Regions from separate parts of the Homo sapiens genome. Here region 2 is linked to region 1. Evidence: fine-mapped expression QTL. A gene starts in region 1. The other region holds a variant in brackets. All regions are shown on one strand. Distances are between the middles of the regions. Region 1 holds the start of SH3PXD2A (SH3 and PX domains 2A). Region 2 overlaps SH3PXD2A (SH3 and PX domains 2A).

The links. PIP is the estimated chance that this variant, and not a neighbour inherited with it, causes the effect.
Region 2: its variant is fine-mapped to the expression of SH3PXD2A in whole blood (TOPMed, PIP above 0.99).

The regions. Positions count from the first base shown.
Region 1 is chr10:103,851,763-103,860,085 of GRCh38, reverse strand. It overlaps SH3PXD2A (SH3 and PX domains 2A), which reads left to right and starts at 4,510. Exons shown (of 15, transcript NM_001394015.1): 1 at 4,510-4,891. The coding sequence starts at 4,820.
Region 2 is chr10:103,673,916-103,682,238 of GRCh38, reverse strand. The region is part of intron 6 of SH3PXD2A (SH3 and PX domains 2A); the gene reads left to right. Among named protein-coding and RNA genes, the nearest start is that of SH3PXD2A-AS1, 69 kb to the left of the region's middle. RefSeq lists enhancers at 1-258, 3,622-3,791, 3,802-3,861. The variant G/A (reference allele first, on the strand shown) is at 3,246.

The sequences.
Region 1 (8,323 bases):
AGTTATGGAATAATATTGTTTTCCTCTGTGAATCTAATTATGCCCTTGGCCTCTTTGGCTGTGCAAGTTCCCGGATTTCCCTCTGGTATTCCAGGGCGTGACCACTTGCTAAGGCTGGAATTTCAAGTGGTTCTATCAAAACCTGCTGCTGCACACGGACCCTCACCGGAATCCAGGCTAAGACAGGAGAGTGAGACTCTCAAGGGACCGTGTAAAGAAGCATGTTGAGATTTTGCTGATGAACTTACTGTGCTGGGTGTCAGACGGAGGCGGCTTCCACCATCTGGTAGTTTGGCAACAGGAGGGGCCTGTTAGTATGGCTAAAATTCGTGAACAGTGGGGCTGGGTGGTAGGGCAGTTCTGGGGCCATATCCTGGTCCTGTTCCCCAGCAAGGAGAGGAGAAGCCTGACAAGCAATTTACTTCCCTGGGCAGTTGGCCTTGCTGTCTGCTCCACACTCCGGTGGGACCGTCCTCAAGACACTCCCCAAACATAAGTCAATAAATATATCAGGGCTGATTTGAGAGAGAAAGGGAGTGGGGGAGAAGAAAAAGGAGGAGGAGGATGAGAAGAAGCAGAGACAGAAGCATGAGCGCTGGACCGCTTACAGTCTGTAGAAGGGCAGGTTATTCGTCCCAGGCCCTCCTGCCTGTCCCTGTGGCAGGAGGTAAAAGTGCTAAAACCACTTTGGCCAGAAGAGGGCCCCAAATTTCACTCAAATTTACACAACTCGGGGAGAGTCTTGCTAGACCTCAGTTTATGTAAGTTATCCACCACTGTACAGCATGGAAAGGGCCAGAAAGAGCACCAGAGACCCAGACGTGGGAAAGAACTTCAAGGTCACAGGCTGGTTTGTGGTTAAGCCAGGAGTAGAACCCAGGTTGGGTAATTCCTGCTCTGAGACTCCAATTCTTCTTCTTCTTAGGCATTACTTAGCCCCAGCATTATCTACAAATATCTGCTGAGATCCCAGTAATTTAAAAAGACAACCATTTATTGAGGGCCTGGCATGTATAAAGCTCTGCGCTGGGTGGGCAGGTGTGTGTGGCAGGTGACAGAGGTGCTGGATGATGGGGGTGGGGAGGGAAAGGGTGGTGTCCATGTCTAAGTTCATGGTCCTCAAGGCCTTCAAAGGCTTCTTACTGGTTTAGAAGGCACAACCTAAAGCACAGGAAAGTTAAATAACAATAAAAGATATAAATAAGGTTCAATACAGTGAAGGCTGAGCTGTCATAGGGTGATGTATGATTAGTAAACAAATGTATGATTAGCAATTGTCATTCGATTTCTGAAGAGGAAGAGAAGGTTCTCTTGTGCTTTCATATAGCCCACTGTGGTTTCCAGTACTTTCCTGCATGTTGTCTTCTTTGGGGGTGGTCACAAAGACCCTACATGGGAGAGGAGGTAGGGCGGGTTCTGCTTTAGGGGAGCTGATGGAATTTGCACGTACACAGAGGACCATGGAGACACACACGGCCTCTGCTCTAGAGGATTGTACAGTCCTCTTTATTGGGAAGTCCAGGCATCACGAGTTCATATGCTTGTGTGAATGGAGAACTGGAACCAGGGACTCCAGGGTTTGAGTGAATGCAACATTCTAGACCTGCAGGTGTGCTAAGTGTGCCCTTTAAACAAGCTCTTCTTGCCCTAGTATAGGCACATAAATGTGGAGGGGAAAGACAGCGGGCTTTGGACTAACTGGCTATGTGGCATCAAGCAACTTGCTTAGTTTTTCTTGGCCTTGGTTTCTTCCTCTGTAAAATAAGAGAAATAAATAACCTCTCTTGTCCCTTCTAGTTGGAAAGTTCTTTGATTCTAAGCATTCTACAATTACCTGTTTTCGAAAATCAGATTTTCAGGTATCAGTTTGCATCTTTATGTTGGCTTCTCTTTCCCTTACTTATCCTAAACTTAAAAAAAAATTTGCAATTATATTTTGTCATTTTTAACTCACACAATGTCCTTAGGTTGGAGTCATCTCCAGTTCATGGGCGGAGGTGGCAAAATAGGGGTTTCTCTAATCCTTTCTAGCACTAGCTCTTTGAGCAGATGTTTTCAACACAGGCCATCCTATATACCTACTGTGTGCCACGCATAGTTGGGGTATTTAATGAATGATGCACAGTCCTTGTTTCCAAGGAAACTTCCCCCAGTCTCTGTCATTTTTGGGGGATTGCCAGGCACATGTGAGGCATTCAATAAATGTGTATTGAACAGAAAGGAATTCCCAAGGCACTGTGGGAAATAAATCTGCATGAGGTTGAAATGTACCCAGAGAAGAGATAGCCTGCACCATTTCATACTTAAATCCCCTTGGACATACGGCCCCAGTACAGAAAAGACATTTTTCTCCCACAGGTAGAAATAACTTCTGCCCAGATCTTGGCACCATGGGGTTGAGTGGGGAGCACTCAGTTGCTCCCTCCAATAAAGGTAATTACGGAACAAAGGGGGAAGTTGGGAGTATGCTCAAGTCAGGCTTAAAGGCCTGAATTTATAAAATGTCAAGTTGCAGGGAGTCTTTTAGGCAGGAGAAAGGCTACCACTTTGTAGGCCGCTAGGAAGTGGGGAAGAACTGGGCCCTCTCTCCTACAAATTTATTGTGCTTGGTGTGTTCATTGTGGATCTGGGTCCGAAAGAAGGGTAATAAGGAAACCACTAGTGCTGTTTTAGATGAGCTGACTGCTTTGATTCACAAGGGGACCCAAATCAAACTAAACCCCCTCCTCTTCTTCCCCCCACAACAGCTAAACACCAGCTCCCCTCGCTGGTGGCTTCTCAGGTTTTATTAGCACTTCCAGAAGACTTTGCCATCCACAGAAGACGAGTTATCCGAGAGCCATGATGAATCTCTTCCTCACAAACTCACAGGCTGTCTTGATCCATCATCAGAGAGGACCTGGAGCTGGCCAGCACCCTCCCAAGTTCGGGAGCTCAATATGGAGGGCCCGTTCCAGGTCTACCTCTCATCCCTTCAGGGAATAATCCTTGCTCATGGAGGTAGTGCCCTGTCCTCCCATTTTCCCATCAGCTGAGCAACATTACCAGGTGCACCTTCCCCCAGGACTCCTGCTCCAACATTCACAAAGGTTTTCTGTCATCTTCTCTGACCAAGAAGCTCTGGCCTGGTGCCAAGATCTCTCACAGTCTGAGCCCCCTAGGCCCATCCATCTTTTTTTTTCTTTGTCCCGTGCCATCGTTTGGTGTCCTAGCGCCCTTCCCCAGGAAGGTTGGAGGAATAGTGGGTTACTCTGTATGGAGCAAATATGTGAATAAATAAAGCCTTAGATCTGTGCCTGGGTTCTGACAGTCTAGAGAACGCGCAGAAGAAAGTATTAATGCAATTAGGTCACAAAATTATTTGTCCTCTTTTCAGATGTTTCACATTGGTCCACAGTCACAAAGCTTTATTGTGATTGTGTAACAACTGGAGTAGTTGTGAAAACACTACCCTTTAAATGTTTGAAAGCAGAATGGGAAAAAAATGTTGAACTAGAAGGGGGGAAGCTACATTGAATTAAGTAGTAACTGTGCTCCAAGTCCAGGGACCACGGACAAGTGGCTTGGAAAGTGGGTTTTCCAGACTAGAGGGAGGGGTGAGAATGCCAGAGCCTGGGGCTCACGGTGAGCTGGCCTCCAACCGGGTGGGTTTTCCCACCATTGTATGCTCCTTTCCCTGTCGCCAGCTTGGGGAGGGTCCCCAGGGGAGCCCTGGGCTTAAGGCAGTGGTGTTATGCAGAGTCTGTAACGTTGTCATTGGTAAATGATGCACAGGGTAGTTACACAAGCCCAGATCGATGGACGACTCAGGCAACGAATCGATCACTTTTCCGGGGAGAATTCACCCTTTATGACCTGCAGAGGGTCAGGTGGTTCGTCCAAAGAGGCTCTGGCTTGAAGGATTTAAAGCTGGCCTTTTCCCCATTCCCATCTCCTCCTCGGGGGCCTGGGCAGTAACAGCCGGGTAATAAACTACTTCTCATTAAAGAGATCTGGGGGTGGAAGTTGTAGGGGGACATAAAAGTGGGGACAAAAAGGCACAAATCCGCTCCGAGGCGGAAAGCCAGGATGGGGGCGCGCGGGGCTCACTTTCCCCGCTCCCTCTCCCCCCGAAGCCACCCTGAGTTTTTGTGCCTAGCGAACTAGCCCGGTGCTGCGCCAGGCCGCTGGCTGCGCGCTGGGCTCGGGTGGGGGCTCGTCGGCCCGCCCCTGCCACTGGGGCCGGGCTGCAGCCCCCTCCCCGTCGCCCCGAGCCCCTCCCCCGGCCCGGAGCCCCTCCCCGCGCGCTTCCCCTCTCTCCCCTCCCTCCCTTCCCTTCCCTGCCTGCCAGGCCCTGCCTCCGCCTCCTGCGCCCACAGCCTCCGCCAGCGCCGATCCCCCCGGAGCCCGAGCCGGAGAGCGGCGAAGGGGAGCCGCCGGCCCCTCCCCAGGACGCTGACAGCAGGCTCCGGGGCCCCCGCCCCGTCCCCTCGCCGACGGGACACACCCCCGCCCCTCCTCTGCTCCGCCAGTTCCCGCCGGACCCACCGGGCGGCGGAGAGAGCGAGCGGGCGAGCGCAGCGCGGCGGCCGCGCGGGAGTGAAGGGGCGCGCGGCAGGCCGGCGGGGAGTCCCCCGGGGCGCACGGAGCCCGCGCGCCCTCCGGGACCCTCCCCCGTCCCTGGGCCGGACCTGTGGGCGCCGGGAGTCCGGGCAGCGTTCGGCGCGCCGGGCCGGGGTGGCGGGCGGCCCCGGGACCCCGGCAGCTGGAGAAGGAGCCGGAGCCCGGCCGGGATGAGAAGGTGACGCCGCCGGGGGCGCCACTCGCTTTGTGGGGGAAGATGCTCGCCTACTGCGTGCAGGATGCCACCGTGGTGGACGTGGAGAAGCGGAGGAACCCCTCCAAGCACTACGTGAGTACAGCCCCCGCCGACCCTGCTGGGGGTGGCCCGAGGTCCCGGGAGGGCCCCGGATGGCCCCTTGCCCCTCCCAGCTGTGAGGTCGCGAAGCTAAGCGCCCACTGGGCAGCCAGCAGCCGTGGAGTTTCTTCGCAGGGCTGTGATCTCCAGGGAAGCCTCTTCTGTCCTTCCTCCTTCGCACCCCCGCCCCCCCGGTTTCTTTTTTTGGCATTGGAATTGGCAAGTGGCTGCCCTTGTCTGTTACAACGGTGAAGTCATCTGTCCGCCTTTGATGGATGGTGGGGGGAGCTTTCGTCAACCCCTCACAGAGCAGCCCCGTCGGGAAAGCGCATCTCCTCGGCCCTCCCCAGGGGCCCTGGGCGCTCACGCTCACACAGCCCGAGATGCTTTCAGAGCTCGCCCTGGAGAAGGAAGCCTCGCGCCCTGCCTCCCACGCCAGCTCTGTCTCTGCCTTCCTAGGCCTGGGGCTGGGGGCAGAAGGAAGCCGCCGCCCCCTTGCCCAACCTCCACCCTCCGCGCTAAGCTTTGATTTCCCTCATAAAGCCATTGTGTCCGTCGGTGTGAGGAGAATTGTGGCTTTTCCTTTTATCCCTCCTCTGGACGTGACCCTTAACCGGGTTCATTTCCTCTTAAGTGATGCTCCATCTCCAGACACGAGGAGGCGAATGTTTGCTGTGGTCTCCGAGGAACCGCCCCTCCCCCTTCCTCCCCCAAACTTTAATGAGAAGGGGTTAAGGTTGACTGGGGCAGCTCCAGAGCCTATGTGACAGTTCCCCTTTCATCTCAGCCGGTCCTGTCTTCCCATCCCTCACACCTTAGGAAGTAAACACGGTGTCCTTGACCCCTCTGAGCGTCTGTGCTCCTGTACTTGAGATAGAAGAGACCCAAGCACAGAGGACTGCATGTTATTTGCAAATTGGGTATTTAGAGGAGCAGTTCCAGTGCTCAAAGCATTAATCTTAACAGTTAAAACAGGCGCTGGTTGCTGCCCTGGATTGTACATTGATCTCTGAAGTGCCTTTTCTTCCACTGTTGCAAAGGGACTGGGGTTTGTGGCAATGTCAGCCTCGGGCTACTCTTTTTGCCTTTGTCACCAGTGTAGCTCTGAACTTTGAGTTTCTTTACAGCTGAGCAAATGCGGCTGGGCTCATATGGGGAGGAGGTAAATGTGGAGGCAGGTTGACTAGGCAGGGAGGTGGGTGCCTGTCGGGTCCAGTCCCTGACACCCTTAGAGAGTTGTTTCTTTTGTGTCATCTGGTCCAGCAAGCATTTTCTGCTGCTGTTACAAGAAAGCTCTTTTTGGAGGGCTTGGGTCACCAGGTGGTCAACCTGCTCTGTGGACAGATGTCCCTTTGTATATCCCAGGGTTTATTTTTCTCAAATGTTGCAGGCTAAGTTTTAAGGGTTCTCATTTGTAGTCCTCAGCTGAGCTTGGCACTGCATTCAACAGATGGCACTCTGCTCTGAGACCCAGGCAGGTGCGTTTCCAACTCTGGATTTTAAATGAAACATCACATTTCAGCTCCCACCGATGGTGCCCAAGGTTGCAGATGCAGGACACACTGGTAACAAACTAGAACCGGGGCCCACTGCAGACAGGATTGAAAGGCAAGATTGCGTGCTGGGGTTCTGAAGTTAGACGGTCTTGCTCAAAGCCTGGCATGCAGCCAGTAACTAGCTGTGCCACCTTGGCAAGTTATTTAAACCTCCCCCAGCCTCAGTTTACTCAATTTCAAGTAAGGATAATAATAGTATGTACTTGTTGGGAGAATTAAATGAGATCATCTATGTAAAGCACTTAGCCCAGTTCCTGGCACGCAGTAAGCTCTTATTAAATGGTAGCTTATTATTGGTGAGATTCTGACTAAGAAAGTATTTTTGAAAAGCAGCTATTAATGGTCTGGCAAAAAGGAAGAAAGATTTTGGGTTTTAAGATTGATAATAACTTGTTCTATGTGAAAAACACAAAAGAAGTCCTGTCCAGTTCCCTCGAAATGATCATTTCCTTCCTTTTTACAGACAAAGTGTTTCCCGGGACATCTCCGCTTCCCGAGTAAGAATCGATGACATTATGTTTGGGGGGGCAGGGAGTGATGTCACTGAACAGATGGGGCCATGCAGAGTTCTGAACTAGAGTTCTGGAAAACACTGAGAGGAGAAAGTGTTACATGTTGTGGAATTGTGGAACGGGCAGAGACCCGAAGACTCATCTGGCTCAACTCCTTCATTTTACAGATGAGGAAATGGAGAGCCAGATTGGGTAAAGTAACTTGCAACACAGCTGCTCACAGCTGGGTTTTTTTCATTGCATGTACCCTAAGTCCAGTTGGGTTTGGCTAAGAGGACAAATAACTGGTGGTCAAAAAGTTTCTACCCATTTGGGGCATTGTATATATTAATACATAACATAAGCATATCCAATAATTGAAAGGGGGAAAGAAAGCAATAGAAAGGGCCTGGTGGGACAGACAGGGGCAGGAGGAGCGGGTTTGGGGAGGCTGCAGCCTCTTCCTCTCCTGGCCCTTGCACGGTGAATACCACACACCAAAAGCTCAAGTGTTGTGAGTAAGGCCCTCTGGTGTGGTCAGCTGGCAGGACGTGCTGCACCCATTGCCTGTGTTCTGGAAACCCTCTACACTGGAGGAGCAAGCCTCCTTCCAGCCTTTCCTCTGCTGATGGTGAATTCTGAGTCTGTGGTTTGGTAAATTGCAGAGCAGAGAGGTTTTACGGGATGTGCGTGTTAGCCAGAGCTAGCCGATGAGAGGCCTGGGGCCCACGCAGGAGGAGCTCTGCTGGCTCCAGAGTGCTGGGAACACACTGCAAAGGTTCTCTCAGGACATTCTGCAAAGGGTTTGCTCATCCCCACGGGGAGGGGGAGCTGCCTGAACACGAAGGGTCCTGTGCTTTCGGTCAGTTCATGAAGGCACGCAAGTAGCTTCCATCATGGGGATGGCACTCAGCCCTGGCTTCCTTCTTCTCTGCCAGGCCCCTGCTTGGGGTGGGGTTGAGAAGGGCAGGCAGCTGCTACTAAGGTCAGGCTCCCTGGCATGAAGCTAGGCTCCTTTCCTGGCTTTCTGAGCTGTGCCTGGGGAGACCCTAGGTAAACTGGCTTTGGCCTCTGACCGCTTGTCTTGAAAATGGTCCTGATGATGCTGGATGCAGAATGCAGATTCCTTCGTTTGAAAGTTTTTCAGTAAAGATTTGAATTCAGGTCCACCGGGTTCTTTGTGCTCACAGGCAGGTATAGGTATATATCAATTCATGTGGTAGAGAAAAGCTCGTTTATCTAAAACAAACAAGAAATTGTATCTATTTGGATTTGGGAGGTATTGCACTTTCACAGTTGTTTTATTTCCTGATTGTTTATTTCAGACAAATACCAATCATGAATGTTCTGATCCTCTGCAGGACTCTTTGGGGAATGCA
Region 2 (8,323 bases), 180 kb after region 1:
ACACACAGAGCAAGGCGGAGCGGGGAGGGGGCAGGGGCGTGGCAAGCGCTCCCCGGATCCTGGAATCCCCAGAAGGAGGCAGCTAGTTGGAAGCCTCAATTCCCTCAGCCCTGCTTGCACAGCTGCCTCTGCCCCCTCACTCCTATCACCCAGTTTCTCCTGCTAGGAAAATAGGAAGTTGGTCCAAAAGGGAACTGCATGGGCAAAAGTGAACTGCAGAATCTTGAGTCTGCTCATTGAAATACAGATTCCCAGGGCCTGCCCAGACCTACTGAATCAGCGTGTCTGGAGTGACGCCCAGGTATCTGCATTTTTTCATTTTCTTAAGAGACAGGGTTTCACCATATTGCCCAGGCTGGTCTCAAACTCCCAAGCTCCTCAAGCAGTCCACCCACCTCGGCCTCCCAAAGTGCTGGATTATAGATATGAGCCACCGCATCTGGCCGATCTGCATTTTGTGTGTGTGCGCGCGCGCGCGCGGGCGCGTGTGTGTGTGTGATGGAGTCTCACTCTGTCACCCAGGCTGGAGTGTGGTAGTGCGATCTTGGCTCACTGCAACCTCTGCCTCTTGGGTTCAAGTGATTCTCCCGCCTCAGCCTCCTGAGTAGCTGGGACTACAGGTACCCTCCACAACACCTGGCTAATTTTTGTATTTTTAGTAGAGACAGGGTTACACCATGTTGGCCAGGCAGATCCTCCTGCCTTGGCCCCCCAGAGTGCTGGGATTATAGGCGTGAGCCACTGCACCCAGCCAATCTGCATTTTTGACAGGCTTCCCAGGGCTTCTGAAATCAAGCTAGGGTTGCGTCTTTGATGGGTCATCCATGTGGGTTGATGGCCATGTTCAGGGTAGACAGGCAGCAAGATGGCAGGGGGATTGGCATCCCCAAGATGAATGGTGCCTGGATGATGCCTGGATGGGACTGCTCCTTGAAGAACATTCAGTTGTCTCCTGAGATGGGAGGGTGGGCTACGGGGGCAGGAATGGAGGACAGGACTCCCAAGTCTCTTACCCCTGAAACACAGCCCAGCATTTGGAGTCTTGGAGAATGGCTATCTGAGGGGCCTACCCAGCCCTGACCTGATGAGAGACACCATCTGCCTTTCATTTCCAGAAGGTTTTGTTGCTGGGGGAGGAAATACCCAAATTGTGGTCCAGCAAAGAAATGTTTCCCACCGTGGCCCACGGCCAGAAAGTCACTGGTTCCTCACTTCAGCGTTTGGTTTATAGACACGTGACAGAAGAGGCAACCTTTCCAGTGATGACAAAGCCGGCGGAAAAACAAAGACATGGGGGAAATGTGCATTACTTATTGTTTTAGCACCTTTTTCTAATCTAAAGTTACTTTTAGAAACAGAAAAGTGGTGTGTGTAACTTAGTCGGCACGTGGCATTTTTAGAATTGGTCTGTTTCGAAGTGTGAAAGAAAAAAATATTTTTTTCCTGAGTTTCCATAAAACTTAGAAGTTTACAGGAAAATCATGCTTTTCCCTGACTCTCTTCTTTCTGCCTTGCCCCCTGGATTTCATCATTGCCATGTGTGGCCCAAGCAGCCAGCTTGAAAATGTATTTTGTTATTTATTGTTAGAATAAAGTCTTGCACCAAGACAACTGGGTCATGTTAGAAAGTCCCTTTGCTTCCTTGTGCTCAGAAACAGAGTTTGCTGGGTGTGGTGGTTCACGCCTGTAATCCCAGCACTTTGGGAACCTGAGGTGGGAGGATCACTTGAGCCCAGGAGCTTGAGACCAGCCTGGGCAACCTAGTGAGACCCCTTCTCTACAAAAATAAAAAATTAGTCCAGTGTGGTGGCACACACCTGTGGTTTCAGCTACTCGGGAGGGCAAAGAAGGATTGTTGAGCCCAGGAGGTTAAAGCTGCAGTGAATGGTGATCGCACCACTGCACTCCAGCCTGGGCAATAGAGCAAGACCCTATCTCAAAATAAAACATAAAGAAGGCAGGCCGGGTGTGGTAGCTCACGCCTGTAATCCCAGCACTTTGGGAGGCCGAGTTGGGCGGATTACTTGAGGTCAGGAGTTTGAGACCAGCCTGGCCAACATGGTGAAACCCTGTCTCTACAAAAATACAAAAATTAGCTTGGTGTCGTGGTGGGCGCCTGTAATCCCAGTTACTCAGGAGGCTGAGGCAGGAGAATCACTTGAACCGGGGAGGCAGAGGTTGCAGTGAGCAGAGATGGCGCCATTGCACTCCAGCCTGGGTGACAGAGCGAGACTCTATCTCAAAAAATAAATAAATAAATAAAATAAAAGAGAAGGCAGAGCTGGCCATCTCTTCACCATCCTCCCCCTTGTCACTGCTTCTGGATCCCTGTGAGTAAGGGTGTCCTCAGCTCAGCCCTGGAGCACCTTAGGCTCTTTGAGTGTTGGAAGAGGATCAGGTCTGGGTACATAACTTCCCAGCTGGAGGGTCAGATCCTTGCTATGCTAAGCAGTGATGACAGGCTGGTGACAACAGACCAAACTAAGACTGTCTTTGTATGTTGGCAATGGCCCCCCCAGGGGGACCTTGCAAATATGCAGATTTTAACATCCCTCATTTCAGATCTGTCAGGGTGGGACAAGTTCTTCTGGCCTGTGAGCTCCTGCCATACACAGTCCTGGAGCCTGCTGGCTCTGAGTTGCTCATTTGCATTTGGCCACAGGGTTCTGGTCAGGGGAACTCCCCTCTCCCCCACCCTTCCTCCATGACTTGGCTCGCTCCTTCTGCTCCAAGCCCATGGCTCAGTGGACACTAGGCAGCTGTCTCCTGGGGCGCAGGGAGGGTACCCTTGAAGGCTAGTGGATAGGAAGCAAGTTTCTGAATGGACACTGGTACTAGGTCTTCCTTCTGGGATGAGGTGGCTCCTTCCAGACTAAAGCTGGCTTTTCTGGCTCTGGCTGTGCCTGCCTTCTAGGTTTGTCTACTGCACATCTGACAGGTCTTGTGATGGAACCTCAGTGATACCAAGATGGAGACAATGAGGTCCTTGTCCTCAGAGGACTCCTGGCCAGATGGGGGAGGTGGGCAAGGAAACAGCAGTTTTAAAACAGTGTCACAAGTGCTGCACGGGGCTGGGGCCACGCCATGTAGGGGTCTCTGAGCAAGGCACACAGACCTGCATGGCTGCTGAGCCTAATTTACTGAGCTTTCTAAATGGGTCAGCTGGGTGAAGAGGACAGTACCTGTGCAGAGGACATCTGTTCAGTGGTAGGAGCCACTGTCCCCATGTGCCACGTCTTCCATGT[G/A]GGGCATCTCTTTCATAGCCCTGGAGCACCTACTGTGTGGTTCTGTTTCAGAGGAGCTATTGCAGATTGCTACTTGTTCAATAAAATTATTGAAGTTTAAAATGTTCTAATTAATATGTGTTGGCCCAGGAGCCACCTCCCACCTTTTCCTTATTGTTAGGAAGAGCCCAGCCGTTTCCTGGGAGACAAAGGAGGCCATGAATCTTGACTCCTTGTGATTCCAGGATCACTGTCCTGCAGCCAGGTTCCTGACACTAGGAGATGCACATGAAATATCCTCCATCAGGGAAGGAATCTCCCTCCAGTGAGAACTCCCGAGAGGCTGATGATTGACCAGGATTGACAGGACAGGGAAAGAGCAGCCCTTTCACATCCCAGGTCAAGACCAGTGAGGCCCAGAGAAGTGTCCCAACCTTCCCACGCTGGGAAAGGCAACCAGGGCCAGGGCTGAGCACTGAGCACCAGGCCTCCTTCCTGGCTTCTCCCCTCTCTGGAAGCTTAGCATTAGACAGAGCCGCCGAGCTGTGGTGCTGAAGGGTTAACTCGGGGCTCCCCAGAGAGCCGCACACTCCCGACCCTCTCATCTTCCAGGCCCTCTCAGCTGCAGCCTTCTGGGCATAGCTGGGTCACGTGAGAGCCAGATGTGGGGATTTCCCAAGCAGTGGTGTGTGCGTGCGCACTGCGTGCATGCACAGCTCTGTTTACGTGGCATCTCAGCGCTCAGGGGATTGGTCTGGACCCACGCAGAGGAGGGGAGGGATGGGGTAAGGAAAGGCTCAGGGGCTCCCAGCAAACACCATGGGAGGCTGCACCAAGCCCTGCTCCCCCCAGACATTACACATGAACGGGTCGTTCCTGCTCCGGCTCCTGTTTCCTGTAGCGTCCATCCTGCCAGAGACTGTACTGCTTAGGGGTAATTTTTCTAAAAATCTCTTTGAAGGGCATTAAAGCAGATGCTGGGAGCCAACGCCCTTCAGGGTGTTCTGCAGGCTCGGAGGCCTGCACGGGAGCCACTGTGCCCAGCACAAGCCAGGCCTGTATGCCTGTATGTGGTTCCGGAGGCCAAGCCTGGACTAGAGAGGGCAGAGCCGTGGGTATCAAGAGGGTCCTGGGGCAGTGGGGTAGCCGGGCCTCAGTTTTCCATGCACCCTTGGGCTTGAGAGCAGTGAGTATTCATCTTTCCATCAGCCACTGAGGGTTAATTGGGCACCTCCTGCATTCAAGGTGTTGTGGGGTGCTGACAGGGATAAGGCCTTGAAGGAACTAAAGGTCTGATTGAAGAGACTCATAACAAATCTTTAATAAGCACCTACTATGCGCTATGCGCTTGCTAGGACTATAGCCCTAACCAGACGTTTGGAGCCAGTGGGAACAGTCAGTGAACAAAGATCCTGCCCAGGGCATGATAAGGGAGACAGAAAACCTTGAAAAGTGGGTGTCCTCAACCTCAGTCCAGGAATGAATTCTCCTCCTACCCCTGACCCCCCATCCCCACCCCTGTCTTGCACCAGTGGATGGCAGCGTCCAGCCAGATGTCCCTGAGGCTCCGTGAGCCCTACCCCAAAGATGGGTCCAGTTATACCTTCAAGGCCTCCAGGACTCAGCCCTGCCGTCTCCTCCCTCAGACCTTCCGGGACCCAGCCTGTCTCCCCAAACCTACATGACTCCTGAAGCAGACAGGAATGCTGGGGACGGTGTCTGTGGTTGTGTGTCTGATGCTTTGAGACAGAGGGTGGAGAGTCAGATGGTCTCAACCAGGGGCCGTTGATGCTCCCGAAATAGTTGGCGGTTGATTCATTGATAATCCGATAGCAAGAGTCCAGTCTGGAGAGAAGGAGACATTCCACATTTTGTTGTCCGGGGAGGGGAATGTCTGTCCTGAGTCCGTTGCTATTGACTCCATCACTCACTCGCGGCTCTCAGGGAGACTGAGCCAGGGAGGAGGCGGATTGCAAGACTCGGGGCTGGAGACCAGCGACTGCTGACTTCATCCCACTGCCCAGCCTCTCTGCTGCTCCTTCTCTGTGTGAACGCAAATACTGGCTTTGGCTCGGGCTTCTGGGGGAGCTGGAGGGTGGGGGAATTGGAGGGAGGATCTCCCAGTAAGTGAGGGAGGACCACCAAGGCAGGCCACCCCAGGGAGGGAGGTGGCTGGGATCCTGGAACTCAGAACAAACTTGAGTTTGTCTCTTCTCTGCACACAAATGCCCTGGGGTGGGGAGAGGTGAGAACCTGAGAACTGAGGGGGAGGCCGCAACCCAAGGGGCTGCCATGGGTTGGGCAGCAGCTGCTGGGATCAGAGAGGCTCTGAACCTGCCAGCCTCCCTGGCCAGCACCCCTCTGTCCACCCACGGCACCTCTCACTAACCCAGCACCTATCTTTAACCAGGAAGCTTCCGGTCTTCTCAGCAGGGTGGAGGGAGGTGACAGAACTACCTGCTACTCCCTGCCAGGGCAGCCCCTTCTAGGCAGCCTCAGTGCTCCTAGGGCATCCTTGGCTTCTCCGTCCACACCCACTTAGGCTGGGCTGACCCTTCTGGCCCCAGGCTTGGCCTAGGCAGGCACCCTTGGACTTAGTCCCTAAGGGGCTGTGGAGGGTCTCCAGGCCCAGCCCCCACTGCACCCCATCCCCCGCCTGAGCAGGGAAACTGCTCCTTGACTGCATAACCCAGGGCCAGAGGGTCAATAGTGCATTCCTACCCTGGGTTGGGCTGCCCCCACACGTGTTCTGGATTCCAGGGAATGAGGCAAGTCCTTTCTTGCTGCATTTACGAAAAGCAGCAGAAATAAAGAAAGCCTTGGCCAGTGGCCAGGGAGGATCAGAAAATGACATCCCCCATGAGGACCCTTTGTTCCCAATTCCTGGCCAGCCTGCCTGGGCTTAAGTCTGATGCCATCACTTCTTGCTGTAGGGCCTTGGGAAAGAACCTTAACTTTTCTTTTTTTTTTCCCCCGAGACGGAGTTTCGCTCTTGTTGCCCAGGCTGGAGTGCAATGGCGCGATCTCGGCTCACTGCAACCTCCGCCTCCCGGATTCAAGCAATTCTCCTGCCTCAGCCGCCCAAGTAGCTGAGATTACAGGCATGCACCACTATGCCTGGCTAATTTTATATTTAGTAGAGATGGGGTTTAACATGTTGGACAGGCTGGTCTCGAACTCCTGACCTCAGATGATCCACCCACCTCAGCCTCCCAAAGTGCTAAGGTTACAGGCGTGAGCCACCGCACAAGGCCAGAGCCTTAACTTTTCTGTGCCTCACTTTCCTCATCTGTAAATTACAGACTGTTGTGAAGATTAAACAAGAAAATGCTCATAAATGTTTAGCACAGCACCTAGCATGAATGTTAAGTAAGTGGAAACTGGTATAATTATTCTAGCTCCAGCCCTACGACTTATTTGCTGTGTGATCTTAGGCAAGTCTCTTCTCCTCTCTGGTTCTGAGACCCTAAATAGTCCTTCCAGCCTGTGGGGGTACCACCAAGAAGCCAAAGATGTAGCAGAGAGAGGGGACCTGGAGACAAACAATGGCCTGGCTTTCCATTTGGGATTTGCTTTCTGTCTTTAAGAAGATATCCATCAGAAATTCAGCTCTACTAGATTTCTTCTTGAGTACTTCTGTTTATTTAGCTCAGTGGCCCCAAACCCTCAGGTCTTGGGCATAGCTAGCTACATAATTTGCAGGATCCACTGCAAAATGAAAATGAAGACTCTCTCATTCATAAATTATTGATGAAACCCCTGACAGAAGAGCATTAAATCAGCTGCAGGGACCCTTCTAAACCTGGGACCCTAGGCCACTGCCCAGATCACACCTCCACGAAGCCAGCTCTGCCTTGGAGGCTCTGAGTGTAGGAGCAGGCCTGGGGTCCGAGCTGCTGCAATAACAGTATTCACCCCTCGCCCTCCAGTGCAAGGGCACTCTTTTTTCATGCCATGGGTATCTCTGACCAGCTGGCTGCTGCTTATCCTGGAACAAGCTTTTGTAGAGTTGCCCACATCAGAAGCAGCTCACACACTAAACAACTGCCCCCTGGACCAGACTTCCACCCAGGTGTGCTTGGATTGGAAGTCATACCTGAACTATTTGTTTTCTGTCATCTTAATTGGTGTTTGTTTTTGTTTTTTTGTTTTGTTTTATTTTGTTTTGTTTGTTTGTTTGTTTGTTTGTTTTTAAGAGACAGAGCCTTGCTCTGTTGTCCAGGCTGGAGTGCGGTGGCGTGATCTCAGCTCACTGCAAGCTCCACTTCCCAGGTTCAAGCAATTTTCCTGCCTCAGCCTCCTGAGTAGCTGGGATTACAGGCATACACCACCACGCCTGGCTAATTTTTGTATTTTTAGTAGAGACGGGGTTTCACCATGTTGGCCAGGCTGGTCTCAAACTCCTGACCTCCTGATCTGCCTGCCTTAGCCTCCCAAAGCACTAGGATTACAGGCGTGAGCCACCGCGCCCAGCCTGGTGCCATGTTTTTTAAGACTTTTAAAGAATTACGAATTGGCCATCCGTGTTTTTCCCAGATGACATTCACGTGGCTTTCACTGTTACGCCTCAGCTTCTGCTGCTCTGAGCATGACAACCTGTTTCAGGTCCTCTAAAGTGAGTATCACATAGGCCAAACTACTTTGTAAAGGACCGATAACCCTGTTGGGCTGTCGTAAAGATATGAGTTGCTGTGTGCCTATACAGTAGTGCCTACCACAAGGAAGTGCCCTGTTCATGGCAACAATGACAATTACTGTTACTACTGAATAATAGGACTAGCATCTCTTAGGCCCTAATTATTTGATGGCCTGAAAGTGGTGGCCGAATTTCCTGGTTTCCTAACCAGAAAGGAAAAGAAACGTGGAGTCTGCAGGAAACCTAAGAAATCTAGCCCTGTACAAAGTTTAGTTGTATGGGAGAGGAAAGGCTTAAACTGCAGCAGTTATTTAGAAACCAGTTCAAAACTGCAATGAGGTAAGAACAGTATTCCCAAAGAGAGAGAGGGCTTGAGTGCTCCAGTGTGTAGAGATACTGAAGGATGGAAGGGCATGGAGAAGACAGGGAGGTGTTCATTCCATCGGGCCCCTGGCCTGTCACC